Linked DNA regions of Homo sapiens. The protein of the gene in region 1 interacts with the protein of each later gene in a biochemical or structural test. Each region holds a gene or a part of one and is shown in the gene's direction. Other genes may lie near its edges.

Region 1 (7,588 bases):
GCCAGATTTTTTCCTTGGTACCTAATATTTCAATAAATGTCTTCATGCACCATTGCTTTTATTTTTGTAGTATAGATTTCCCAAATGAGGATTATTGGATATAATTTTAGGGTCTAATAGATGTTCATTTTAAAGTCTAGTAGACATTGTAAGCTTACCTTCAAAAGGTTTCAAAAAGTCACATTCCAACCAGCAATATACATGAGTGCCCTTATCCTAGGATCCAACTCTAAGTATATTAGAAACTTCCTTCCAAATTGATGAGTTAAAACATTCTTTAAGGCAGGGCGCGGTGGCTCATGCCTGTAATCCTAGCACTTTGGGAGGCCAAGGTGGGCGGATCACAAGGTCAGGATTTGAGACCAGCCTGACCAATATGGTGAAACCCCATCTCTACTAAAAATACAAAAATCAGCTGGGCATGGTGGCGGGCACCTGTACTCCCAGCTACTTGGGAGGCTGAGGCAGGAGAATCACTTGAACCCAGGAGGTAGAGGTTGCAGTGAGCCGAGATCGCGCCACTGCACTTCAGCCTGGGTGACAGAGCAAGACTCTGTCTCAAAATAAATAAATAAATAAATAAATAAATAAATAAATAAATAATAAAAATAAAAAAATTCTTTATTTTTTAAGTGTACAGTATAATGTACTGATTTGGGGTGCAGTTAAAAGTTTTTTTTTCCACATTTATAAGTTGTTTGCAATTCCTCTACTTGAGGGAGTTTACAGATAGTCACCAGCTGAAAATGGCAGTATTGAGAGTGAGAGAGTATACAGCTACATAGTATCAGTTTCCTTGATACCCTTACCTTCTTCCCAGGCTCCACCCTCCTCTCAAATTTCTGCTACTCCTCACATACAGTGTTCCTGAAGCCACTGATTATCTTTCACCCTCCTGTGAGGACTCTATGTTCTCCTTTGGAATTATTTTCACTTGTTCATTTTCTTGGCCAATTTTGCTGTTTAATTTTATATCTTTTTCTTATCTATTTGATGTAACTGTGCAAACTAGATCTTTAACAATTTGCCTTACATACTGTTTTAATACAACAAATTTTAAAAGTTACTGTTTTACTTAATACTCTACTCAATTTTGAGCAAACTTCATTTGATTTTAATTATAGCAACCATTTAAAACAAGCAGCGCCATTTTAGCTTGTTGCCTTTCTGTAACTGCTTTTAGAAATTCACTTTCTTTAACAACGTGCAATTTCTTCATAATGCCATAGTAAGTTAACTGTAGAGAAGTCACTAATGAATATTATTTTACTTTATTAAATAACAGCAAGGGAAATATAAAAATTTAAATAGTTTTACATGCAACCTAAAAACTTTCCAAACTCAAAAATGGACTTTTTTTTGGAGGGGGGTAGCTTTCTCTCAAGAACTCTTATTTCAAAATCCAAATGGGATTTCAAAATACAAGCAAATAAATGTCAAAGCCTCTTGGCCTCTGCTCTGCCATTCTATGCCTGAAATCCTGCCAAAATGAAATTTTCCGTTCAAAAGGGCTGGCATTTACTAAACTGATGTTTTAAAGACATTCTCAAAAAGTAGTGGAAACTTTGTCCAGCTTTTTATGTTCCTGTCTTGTAGACAGAACAGCTGCCTTTGCAGATATTTTCCAAGATCTTACATTTTCTGAAAAACAAATTTTCAGCCCTTCCACTGTCTTCAGCAAGTGGGTCTATTGGTTTTTCCCAGTGCCAAGCAGAGAAGATAAACAACTGCCAAACTAGAAGCTAGTGTCTGAGTATCAAGGCATAGAAAGGACAGAAGAGATAGTGTTTCAGTAAGTATCAATGCAGAGAAAGGACAGAAGAGAAAGTGGGAGAAAGAAAAGAGGGTGGTTCAATCGTTCACAGTCAAGAGGGACACATTTATCTCAAAATTTTAGGCTGTTTCAACAAAACCGAGCTGTAGCGAGACTAGCTGCTTATTCACACGAGAACATCATTTTCAGTTACTATGAAGATCAAAGAGTTAAAAGATATGAGTTCGTTTAAAGAACTCAAAAGGGAAAATATGAAGCCACCGCAATACGTAGTAAAATCTGAGGCTTAACAGCGCAGCGCCTGAGAGTGCCAGTCCACTAAAGGGAGGGAGAAGGGGCGCAGAGCTTATGGGGGCCTGGGAAGGAGTGATAAGTCTTTGGAAATGGAAACTAAAGCTATCAGCCAGCGAAAACCATCAATATTCCTAAAAATATATAATACTAATAATACATAAAAGCTTTAAAAAACTAACAAGACACTGTGGGATACAAAAAAAGGTAGAAATGAAAATTACAGAATGTTAAGTGAAAAAACTGAAATCCATCTACAGTCGAACAGTTTGCACCTTTAAAAGCAATGACTTGAAGCAGCAAGCAAAAGTTCCCAGTCCTTAAGACTTTCTCCCCACTCTCAATTCTTTCTTTCCTCTAGTGCAAAAGCTGTCTAAGCAGTGCACGCCGGAATTATCCCCACGTGAGCCTTCCTTTAATTTCGGTCTTAATTTTTTTCTCTCTTGTTATTACTCCCAGACCCCAACCTCTTTTTCCTCATCTAGTATCTGTTTCAGGGACAGGACAAAGAGGAGGCAGCGAGCTGAAAAAAGTTTTGTGGTTTGGGATACTTGGGCCTTTGTTGTGTCATTTCCTCTACCCCTCCACGCCCCCAACCACGTGACCAAGAAGGGCCGGAATTTTGTGAATGGAGACGAAAGGTGGCTGTTGGGGCGGGCGGGACTCCGCCCCCTTCCCTAAAGCGGCCAATCTCCTAGCGGAGCGCTGAGGGGTCAGCAATAAACAACAATGGGCTGGGGATTTACGGCTCGTTATTGGCTGCGGGAAGAACCTCGCCGGGACCTAACCCGAAGCTCCGCCCCCTCGCGGTTACCCTGGATACCCGTCAGGCTCGGGCTGCAGAGAAGGTCTTTGGAAACTGTTGCTCAGATTACAGGCGCTGGGTTATTCCAGGAGTGCAGGGTGGTGGAGGACCCTTGTTATTGACCCCCTGCTTGGTTGCACCCTCAGATAGTACCCATGAGCTTCACTGTTCAGCCTCGGGGCCCAGGCGCTTCCTGGAATCTCTCCTTGGCCGGGGTTAAAATGCAGTTCCCGCTCAAAATGCTTATAGGTGCGCGCGTTGTGAACTCCGATTTAGTAGTTTCCGGGAATGCGCGGGGTCTGTCTTTGCTGTCCATAGTTATTGGTTGTTTTCCCAGTAATAAGTGTTGATTGTTTGTTTGTTTGCTTCTTTTTTAAGTAGATCTTTCTCCTGCCCAGGTCCGGGGTTGAGTGCTGTGCGCTCTTACACTCCATTTTAATGTGTCTCCATAACGTTCTATTTAAGGAAGGAAACTTTCAAATAGAAATTGAGAACTGCAGCACGTTTCCTAACGGGCGGAACAGCTGCCGGAAACGTCTTTTGGTCACTAGTTCTGGTCACAAATGAATTTCAACAGCATTGAGTCCCTGGTCCTATCCCCGCGGCCTCCCGTCCGCTGTTGGACACTGGCTCCTTAAAGTGACGCTTTACTGTTCTGAGTCCCATAGGAGGATCAGGGCAAGTGGCTTCAGAGATGCAGCCCTCACTGCTTAACGTCCTAGTTATTGTCCTTGAAACCCGAGCCATCTCACCGCTCGCCCCCAACCCTGGGCTCTGGCTGTTTAAAAGCTGGAGAGGAAGTGAAAGCGTCAAGTACAGTAAGTGACACCCTCCGCCTCCGTGTATACATAACAAAAGCTCAGGAAACGTGCGGGTTCTAGGATATACGAGCAACCCCAAGCACTCCCTCCTCCTCCCCACAGCCACAGTGGACTGGAAGTACCTTTTCCCAGTGCACACGTAGGGACCATTTTGACTTATACTTTTTCACCTAGCTTGCTCTGTTGTCCTCCCATCACAACCTCTGCTAATCAGCAATTCTGCATCTCCTAGGTGCCTTCCTTATAGATTCTTTATGTTTCTGTCCCACGAACGATAGGATCTAATTTTAGTTGAGGATGACTGTTTAAAAAATGTTTCGATAAACCATAATGGTGATGGTGGGTTTTGAAAAACGGGAAAATAAATTGGGCCAAAAGCTGAGTGGGAATGAGGATAGAGAGCGAGGTGAGCTCCTAGTCAGGGCAAGAGTAGAGAGGTTGGAGATCCTGAGGGGAGGGCAGCTGAATAAGGCGGTACGGGCTTTGTGGATCGCGGCTCTAAGGGTATACCAGAACCGCACAACAGTACTTTAAGGAAACCAGCCCAATAGTGGACCTAACACCCCAATAATGGGAACTGGCGACTCGAAACACACGGTTTCAGTATCCCCAGGCGCCTTAACAATAAGCAGCGGGTTACAGAGGAAATCGAGTCTCTCCGTGGCGCTTCCAGGCTGAGGACCCAGCGCCTACCGGCCGAGCACCCCCTAGGGCAGAGGGGCGAGGGAGACCCGCGGGAAGGGGCAGCAAGCCGCCTGATTGACAGCCCGAAATCTGATCTTGTGAAAGAGACGCGGAGCCAATGGGAGGCAGCGATCCATCAGTTTGGATTGGAGGCCCCTGGAGGAGAAGTAGAGGAAAAACCACCGAATTGAGCTCTGTCAGAGGCGCTTTCGGCTTCCAAGGGGGAAGTGCTGGGCTATAATTAATGTTTTTATTAAATTTGGAGGGAAGTTTTTGCAGCCTTTCGCCTAGCGTGGCCTTCAGGTGGGTCTTTCCAACAACTTTTTATGTCTCTCCAGATAATTGCATGGTTGTGGGTCGCAAAAACTATCCTGATGAAAGAGGTGTCTCCGTCTCTTTAGTCCCGTTAGGTGCAAAGCAAGTCTCGTTGATCGCCATTGCTAGTTTTGCACACGTTTGCGAATCAGAGCTGCCCGGGGTACACCGACCGCGCAGGGAAACATCGAGAGTGTAAATAAATACATCGCCTCTTGTTCGGATTTTTGCTACTACCGAAAATATGTAAATTGTGAACTCTGTTGGCTCTCTTTGGATCCAGGTGAAGGAGGCGGTGTAGGGAGGGTTATTTTTGTGAATGGGACTGTCGGAGGGTAATTAGCTATGCAAATTCAAGAGCTTCATTCATGATTTTTTTTTAAGCCTAAAAGCCATCTTGTTCCCCTCTAGGTTGATAGAAGTCCAGATCCTGAGGAAATCTCCAGCTAAATGCTCAAAATATAAAATACTGAGCTGAGATTTGCGAAGAGCAGCAGCATGGATGGATTTTATGACCAGCAAGTGCCTTACATGGTCACCAATGTGAGTGATCAGTTTGAAAGTTGCTGTTTATAAACTTGACTCCGTCGGGGGTGGGGAGAGGGAGAAAATGAGAAGGGAGGGGGCACGGGGGTTGGGATTGCAGATACTTATCTGCTTTGTTGCCACTGTAGGGCGACTCTGCTTCTAGAAGCCCAGTCTTCAAAATGAGCTTACCTTTCAGTGATTTGGATAAGGCATAGTTTTGTTTTTAAGACCCCTTTTTCTGATTAAAGTGCCCAACATGAGTGGAAGAGGAGATGGAGGGCAGCAGCAGCTGCTGCACTCAAAGTTTTTGGCTGGGTTTGTCTGCCACATTGAAAAGAATGAAGTTGAGACAAATGCTGACACTTTTTGTTTATATGGGGTGTTTTTGTTTCTTTTTTTTTTCTCATTTTCTCTTTTTTTTTTTTTTCATTTCTCTACTCTTTTTGCTTTTTTTTTTTGTGGGGGTGGGGTGGGGAGGAGGGGCTGTCCAAGAGAGAATAAAACCCACTGTTTTAATCTAGCATTGAACCAGCCTAAAAACAACTTTAAGTGTAAATGCTTCAGGTTGTTTTGATGCTGAGATACCATGAATATATGATTGATAAATAGTAATGTGCTAAGATCGGCACTGGGAAGCAACTCTCCCTGCCTGCTTAACATAAGCTTTCACTGTCAAATAAGTGAGAAAATGAATATTAGAGTTGATACTATGGACTTCTATTTTTCTATTCAGAGAAGATCCATTAGACTTATGTATGCATGTCTGTGTGTGTGTGTGTGCGCGCGCGTGTGCGTGTGTGTGATCTGAGGTTTACATTCTTTTAAAGGATTTTATCTTTCCCTTTGTAGAGTCAGCGTGGGAGAAATTGTAACGAGAAACCAACAAATGTCAGGAAAAGAAAATTCATTAACAGAGATCTGGCTCATGATTCAGAAGGTGAGGTTTGATTTTGGGCTGAATCCCCATTTTTTTACCTACACTCTCCACCCTGCTAAAAGAAAAGGAGCACTTCAGTCTTATCTTAAAAATAATAAACTTTGAAATTACTGAATCTAACTAAGACTTTAACTTGGAACGATTTACATAATGCGGCAGTTTGCATGGGAGACTATTTTATGGTCCTATCACAAAGTAATGAAAGAAGGAAATAAAAACTTCTCAATGACAACCTTCTTTTAATCATTGTTTTGTGTTTAAATACCTTTGTCCATGGGGCATATAACTCACCCCATTCACTAAGATAACAATTTAAAAATATCCAATACAGTGGGACAAATTCAGCAGCTATGTACACTGCTTACTTTTTTCTTTCTCCTTTATTACAAGTTAAACAGTATTAGTGATTGTTTGGTTTCCCACCTCCTTTACACTAAAACCATCTACTATTAACAGAATTTTCAAGGGTGATTTTGATGACTAAATTGTGAGGTCATAATACCTTGTTTATCGACCATAATGTGTTCACTGAATCATACTTAAGGCCTCCTTAATAATTATAATACTATTTGGGAAATTAGTTTGCAGATTCTTTTTATGAACTGTTGCTAGGATGTCAGTATGTTACAAATTATTTTAGCCATATGAGGACATTCATAATAAACTTAATATACTTAGATTTAATTATCAAAGTTTAGTTGGCAATTTTAATTAGATATACTGAATTCTGAAACTTCCTCAAATCTTCATACCATTTAAATACCTCCCTCTCTCCCTCCCTAACATGACCATATAGTTTAGAACTTGATGAGAACCTGGTGCCAAAGAATTATCTTTCTGACTTTTATAAACCTATTAATGTAGAAATTTTCCTCTAAAAACTTGTATTTGAAGTGGTTTCTTTTAGTTTCGAGGTATTGAAGTTGAAAACATAATACTTTGACAGTTGTACCATGTACCATTATATATTTTATGTAAGATTCAGAAGATATAAATAAAATGCTTTTCAGTCTTTCTAATCTTCCCCCTACTACTATTTTAGCAAGAGTTAAATATATTTAAGGAAGATTTCAGTGAACAGACACATATTCACCTCAGCCTTTTTGTGAATTCTGGTATCCCTGAGCTTATTTATTAAGCTGTTTGTTAAAAAGAAGAAAAGATGATTGACTTTATTCTTTAGTTGACTAAAATAATTTCTTAAAGAGTTGCTTAATAGGCATGAAAAGTAGGCAGTATTATTGAGATATTTAAGTTATGCCTCTTTTTTTTATTTTTATGTTGACTGCGTCTCTTGAAATTAAATTTATATTTAATACCAATTTCATGACAAATATTTCCATTTAATGAAGATTAAAGATTTGCAAATCTTATGTTTATGTCTTTGACTTGTTTTTTAGAACTCTTTCAAGATCTAAGTCAATTACAGGAAA
Region 2 (7,036 bases), on another chromosome or scaffold:
TGTTAAGTGTCTTGTGTCTTTCCAGAGAGGCAGTTTTTTTTATTTGCTTGTTTGTTTAGTAGTCTTTCTACTAAAGGGATTTAAGATGTAACCTACAGCATATTGGTGAAAGAAAATACAACTGAAACTGAAATTGTATGACAATTGACAATAAACAAATTATAACTAATGTTGGAATGAAAATACCAGAATTTAGATTTACAATTAAGTGTTATCTTATTCAGAGATTCAGCGTAGTTATTTGAAGTTTTTCTTTTCTTTGAGACGAAGTCTCACTCTGTCGCCCAGGCTTGAGTGCAGTGGTGCCATCTTGGCTCACTGCAACTTCCACCTCCTGGGTTCAAGCGATTCTCCTGCCTCAGCCTCCCTAGTAGCTGGGACTACAGGTGCCCGCCACCATACCCAGCTAATTTTTGTATTTTTAGTAGAGACGGGGTTCTCCATGTTGGCCAGGCTGGTCTCAGACTCCTGACCTCAAGTGATCTGCTCTCCTTGGCCTCCCAAAGTGCTGGGATTATAGGCCTCAGCCACGGTGCCCAGCCTGAAGTTGTTCTTTCAATGAGTACCTTTTTAGGTGTGGCAGAAAACATTTTTTGGAACTTCTTTTAGAATCCACTTTGGAGCCTGTGATATTCTTCTTCTTTTTTATTTTGAGACAGAGTCTCATTCTGTTGTCCAAGTTGGAGTGCAGTGGCACCATCTCTGCTCACTATAACCTCCACCTCATGGGTTCAAGCGATTCTCCTGCCTTAGGCTCCCAAGTAGCTGGGATACAAGTGCGCAACACCATGCCCGGATGATTTTTGTATTTTTAATACAGACAGGGTTTCACCATGTTGGCCAGGCTGATCTCTAACTCCTGACCTCAGGTGATCCACTTGCCTTGGCCTCCCAAAGTGCTGAGATTACAGGGGTGAGCCACCGTCTCTGGCCATCCATCTTCATTTTTTTGAGAGCAGATTTGATTTTAGGGAATAACAGTTCATTTGAATCCAAATAATTTAGGGAATTTGGACTCAAGTCTGATAAGAAAGATAAGGCAATCAGGTTGGTGATACTACTGTTTTAGGTCAGATAGGAGTTATAACTATAAAGTAACAACACATAATTTTTTGTGTGACTTCTTGAACTGGACCTGAAGTCTACTTCCAAAAAAATCTCCGAATTTTATTTTATTTATTTATTTATTTTGTAGAGATAGGGTCTTACTGTGTTGCCCAGGTTGGTCTCAAACTCCTGGCCTCAAGCAGTTCCCCCACCTTGGCCTCCCGAAGTGCTGGGATTATAGGGATGAGCCACCACACCCAGCCCCTGAATTTTATTTTCAAGAATGAAAATAAATGAATAGAATATTTCAATGAATAAAATTCATTCATTGAAATATTTGTCAGTTTCCGAATTTTATTGCTCTAAAGTGTGGTATACTTTGTAACATTTACAAATTATTTTAAGCCTATATTATTTTAATTTATACTAAGTATAGTAAAAAAACAAGTAGAAGCCTGTGTGATAACCAACTATGAATCAAAATAGAGTTTTACAAATATGCCTTTCCGTTAAAGGGTAAAGGGAACTAGACTAGGTCTTGCAGTTTTAAGGAACTTTATGCATTGTCTGTGAGGGGAAATGAAGCAAAATTGTTTAAGAATACATTGTTGCAAAGCATTGATTTTGGGGTTTTGGGACAGAAGGGGAGAATCTTTGTGGTGAGTTTAAGGAAATACAAACAGGAACTTAAGTGCCTTTCCTCTGGGGTAGGGTTCTTCCAGGCCCTTGCTGTTGATTAGAGGAGGTGGGACACTGGTAACCATGAAATAGGAGGTGACAGTTGAGAATTACTCTTAGATCTTATTCAACTGTTTATTCAACAGTGTTTATTGAATACCTACCATGGGCCAGATAGCTAGGTTCTGGAAATAGAGTGCTAAACAAGACAGAAACAAGACAATCCATTCTCTCCTGGAACTTACAGCCTAGTGGGTTTAATAACTACATTTTGTGGATTGCTTGCTATGTTCTAGCATTGTGCTGTGCACTTTATCATCAGCATAAAAAGTATATAACAAAACCTTTGGTAAAAGGATAGCAAAACTTGCTAAGAAATCAAATACAACTTCCTAAGTGCTTTGTGGAACAAGATTATTCTAGTATAAAAGAAATAAGTGAAGCTAACTTTTTTTAACTATTAATGGCCATTCACCATTTTAAATCTATTTTTTTTTTTTTTTAGAATGAGCCAGGGCACAAAGAAATAAAAGTGCATGATTATTAAGTATACAAGGGTGACTTTCTTGACTCCTGACCAGTGAGAAGGGTGTGCCCTTTACTTTTCTAGTAGTGATAGTAGGTCCATGCTGAGCTTTCCATTCTTTTCTTTGTAACCAAAAGTAAGGTAGTTGCCTGTATGTTACCAGTGCCAGTCAATAAGAAGTCTTTAAACATAATTAACGGCAAGCATTTGTATTATTGATGTATAAAGATTGTTTTAAGAAAGAGTTCATTCGAAGCTGGCTATAAAGTCATTTTATTATCAAATCCCATTTTTCCACTTTTTTTTTTTTTTGAGACGGAGTCTTGCTGTGTTGCCCAGGCTGGGGCGCAGTGGTGCAATCTCGGCTCACGGCAGCCTCTGCCTCCCGAGTTCAAGCAATTCTCCTGCCTCAGCCTCCTGAATAGCTGAGATTACAAGTGCGTGCCACCATGCCTGGCTGATTTTTGTATTTTTAGTAGAGACGGGGTTTTACCATGTTGGTCAGGCCAGTCTCGAACTCCTGACCTTGTGATCTGCCCACCTTGGCCTCCCAAAGTGCTGGGATTACAGGAATGAGCCACCACACCCAGCCTCCACTGGTTCTTCTTTAAAATAAGCTTATCCTGGATCTCCAGGTTTTCAGTTCTGCCAGTTTGATTTCTTGATACTGAGGAGTACTCTGCTTTTGATTTCTTTCTAGCCCAGTCTCAGAGATGATGTGTTGACTTTGCCTTTCATGGGCAAGAGTGCAGATATTGCTGAGCCCCTGGGGCCTAGAATTCAAAGATGGAAGAATTCACTGGGGTAGATCACCCTCACTTTAGAATTAACTGACATTTTTAGGGATTTTTGCAGTTTATAAAGTGTTTTCATTCAAAGCATTATCAATCAGTTCTCACTAGCTCCATGGAGGCTCATATTTATTAACTCCATTTTATAGATGGGGAGCTGGACTCATTCATTAAAGGAATGGCATACTTGTCAATGCTACTTTTAGTAGTCTCCTTTCTGATAGATGTGGGCTGCTGAGGTTGCGCGGTGGCACCTTCTCTTATGCAGTTAACCTCCTCTTGTGAAAAAGGGGTTGCTGAGTCACTCGGAATAGAGCTTGAGTGTAGGAAAGCAGTTCCACCAGTGTCATTGCCCAGTTTATGTGAGGGGTAATGACTTAACCCATTTAACCCATTAGAGTCATGTCTCTTCCTCAGAACTGATAAATCAAAAATGCACTCATTGCCCAGATTAAAATTTTTTCTGAAGGAATTATTAGGCAGTGCAAATAGTTAATTCCTGAATTTATGAATCCTATTGGATTGAAATTCTTCAGTGTACATTTATGTAAAGTTGGGACTGTCTGTACATGTTTGTGTTACATAAGTATAGGATATAAATAGAAATAACTGCCTCTCCAGCCCTTTGAAAATACATTAGATTTTTGCTTTTTGCAGTAAAATTTGGGGTAAAACTGATTTGTTCTTATCTAAGAGGTATAATTACTGCAGTGCTCAGAAAAGCCTCATTATAAAGTGGGCTCCCCTGACTTGGAACTTAGGGATGTCTTCTCATGGCTGCTATGGAAGTCATGCAGCTGTTTCGTCAGGAAAATAACCAAAAACTTCTTTAAACTTGGAAATGTTTTTGTAAAAGAAACTTTCAGTATTCAGAGTAGTTTGTCTTTCACAGTGCTTCCATAAATTAAGCACAGGCACAACTCGTTTTATTATGCTTCACAGATAATTGCTTTTTTTTTGCAAATTGAAGGTTAGTGACAACCCTGTGGTAAGCGAGTCTTTTGGCACCATTTTTCCAAAAGCATGTGCTCACTTCATGTCTCTGTGTCACATTTTGGTAATTCTCGCAATATTTCTTTCTTTCTTTTTTTTTTTTTTTTTTTGAGACGGAGTTCTGCTCTGTCGCCCAGACTGGAGTGCCATGGTGCGATCTCGGCTCACTGCAACCTCCGCCTTCCGGTTTCAAGTGATTCTCCTGCCTCAGCCTCCCAAGTAGCTGGGACTACAGGCATGTGCCACCACACCTGGCTAATTTTTGTATTTTTAGTAGAGATGGGGTTTCACCATGTTGGTCAGGCTGGTCTCGAACTCCTGACCTTGTGATCTGCCTGCCTTGGCCTCCCAAAGTGCTGGGATTACAGGTGTGAGCCACCATGCCCGGCAGTTCTGCTGGGATTACAGGTGTGAGCCACTGTGCCCGGCAGTTCTCGCAATATTTCAAACTTTCTCATTATTATTAAATATTATGGGGATCTGAGATCACTGATCTTTGATGTTGCTGTTGTAATTGTTTTGAGGTGTCTGGAACCATGCCCATAGGCAGACTTAATTGATAAACATTGTGTGTGTTCTGACTGCTCTGCCAACCAGCTGTTCCCTCTCTCCATCTCCTAAGGCGTCCTTATTCCCTGAGACACAATAATACTGAAATTAGGCCAATTAATAACACTACAGTGGTTTCTGAATGTTCAAGTGAAAGGAATGTTTGCATGTCTCTTACTTTAAATCAAAAGCTAGAAATGATTAAGCATAGTGAGGAAGGCATGTCGAAAACTGAGATAAGCTGAAAGCTAGGCTTCTTGTACCAAACAGCCAATTTGTGAATGCAAATGAAAAGTTTTTGAAGGAAATTAAAAATTATATTCCAGTAAACAAATGAATGATTAGAAAGCAACACAGCCTTGTTGCTGAGCTGGAGAAAGTTTTAGTGGTCTGGATAAAAGATCAGACCAACCACAACATGCCCTTAAGTCAAAGCCTAATCTAGAGCAAAGCCCTAACTCTCTTTAATTGTATGAAGTTTGAGACAGGTGAGAAAGCTGCAAAAGATAAGTTTGAAGCTAGCAGAGGGTGGTTCATAGGTTTAAGGAAAGAACCTGTCTCCATAGCATAACTTATAGTGCAAGGTGGCTGGGGGCGGTGGCTAACACCTGTAATTTCAGCACTTTGGGAGGCTGAGGCAGGCAGATCATCTGAGGTCAGGAGTTTGAGACCAGCCTGGCCAACATGGCGAAACTCTGCCTCTAGAAAAAATACAAAAATTTGTTTTTTATATTTTTTGGTGTTGTGGTGTACACCTATAGTCCCAGCTGCTTGGGAGGCTGAGGCAGGAGAATTGCTTGAACCTGGGAAGTGGAGGTTGCAGTGAGCCACTGCAACCAAGTGGCAACCGAGATCGTGCCACTGCACTCCAGCCTGGGCGATAGAGCAAGAGTACATCTCAAAAAAAAAAAAAAAAAATCAATAGATGAGAAATTGCTTCTCAGGAATGAATAAATAAAGTAGTTTCTTGAGGTGGAATCTGCTGTTGGGGAAGATGCTTATGAACATTGTTGAAATGACAACAAAGGGTTTAGAATATTACATAAACTTAGTTGATAAAGCAGCAGCAAGGTTTGAGAGGATTGACTCCCATTTTGAAAGTAGTTCTACTGTGGGTAAAATGCTATCAAACACCATTGCAGGCTACAGAGAAATCTATCACGAAAGGAAGAATAAATCAATGCAGCAATTCACCGTTGTCTTATTTTTAGAAATTGCCATAGTCATTCCAGTCTTCAGCAGTTATCACCCTGAGTAGTCAGCAGCCATCACCCTGAGTAGGCAGCAGCCATCAACACTGAGACAAGACCCTCCACCAGCAAGAAGATAATAACTTGCTGAAGGCTCAGGTGACCCTTAGCATTTTTTAGCAAAAAAATATTTATTTATTTATTTATTTTTTCTAGATGGAGTCTCGCTCTGTTGCCCAGCCTGGAGTGCAGTGGCACGATCTTGGCTCACTGCACCCTCCACCTCCCAGGTTCAAGCAATTCTCCCACCTTAGCCTCCCGAGTAGCTGGGATTACAGGTGTGCACCACCATGCCCAGCCAATTTTTGTATTTTTAATAGAGATGGGGTTTCACCATGTTGGCTAGGCTGGTCTCAAACTCTTGACCTCAAGCGATCCTCCTGCCTCGGCCTCCCAAAGTGCTGAGAGTAATAGGTATGAGCCACTGTGCCCGGCTAATAAAATATTTTTAAATTAAGGTATGTGCATATATATATTTTTTTGACATACTGCTAGTGCATACTTAATAGACTACAGTATCATGTAAATATAACTTTTATATGCACTGGGAAACCAAAAAATTTATGTCACTCATTTTTTTGTGATATTCACTGTGTTGTGGTTGTCTGGAACTGAACTCATGATATCTTTGAGGTACACCTGTATGTATGTGTTAAGGATTTACAAAATTAACCAGCTTTCCCGTGCAGTGTTCAAGTCTTTTAATAATTTATTATAGGGAAGAAGAAGTGGTGGTTTGTAAATTCTGTACTTGACAAATGGATACTGGGTTTTGGGCATGCTTGGCTCCAAGGCTGAATGTTGGGGGAAAGAAGTATAGGAGAGTGAGGAGTCTAGGATTTCTAAGTTTTGGCCTTGGGCAAATGGATATATTTTAGTGCCATTTTCTGAACTTTGTGTTACAAAGTTACAAAAGAGTGTTACAGGGTACAAGATTGTAGAGAGAAAGGGGAAGGAGCATAGGTTCATGGTAATCTCCTTGAGGACAGGACTCATTATACCTTGAGTGCCTACCATGTATGGTTTGCCGTAAGTGCTGGAGATGAAATGTGAACAAAAGAGACAAAAATTTCTGCCTTAAGAAGCTATATTCTGGCCAGGTGCAGTGAGTGGCTCACACCTGTAATTCCTGCACTTTGGGAGGCCAAGGTAGGTTTCCTTGAGCCCAGTAGTTAGAAACCAGCATCCTGGGAAAAATGGGG

What was found. The genes of interacting proteins can lie anywhere in the genome.
Region 2: of the proteins of ETV1 (region 1) and MAPK14, one has a biochemical effect on the other in vitro, tested with the Homo sapiens proteins (one study listed by BioGRID).

What each region holds. Positions count from the first base shown.
Region 1 is NC_000007.14:13,986,653-13,994,240, reverse strand, and holds the start of ETV1 (ETS translocation variant 1), read left to right. Parts: upstream 1-4,574; 5' UTR 4,575-4,678; intron 4,679-4,776; 5' UTR 4,777-4,973; intron 4,974-5,101; 5' UTR 5,102-5,188; coding exon 5,189-5,233; intron 5,234-5,357; exon of another isoform or gene 5,358-5,397; coding exon of another isoform or gene 5,398-5,427; exon of another isoform or gene 5,428-5,474; coding exon of another isoform or gene 5,475-5,561; intron 5,562-6,067; coding exon 6,068-6,155; intron 6,156-7,555; coding exon 7,556-7,588. UniProt on the Homo sapiens protein: Transcriptional activator that binds to DNA sequences containing the consensus pentanucleotide 5'-CGGA[AT]-3'. Required for olfactory dopaminergic neuron differentiation; may directly activate expression of tyrosine hydroxylase (TH).
Region 2 is NC_000006.12:36,030,772-36,037,807, forward strand, and holds part of MAPK14 (mitogen-activated protein kinase 14), read left to right. Parts: intron 1-7,036. UniProt on the Homo sapiens protein: Serine/threonine kinase which acts as an essential component of the MAP kinase signal transduction pathway.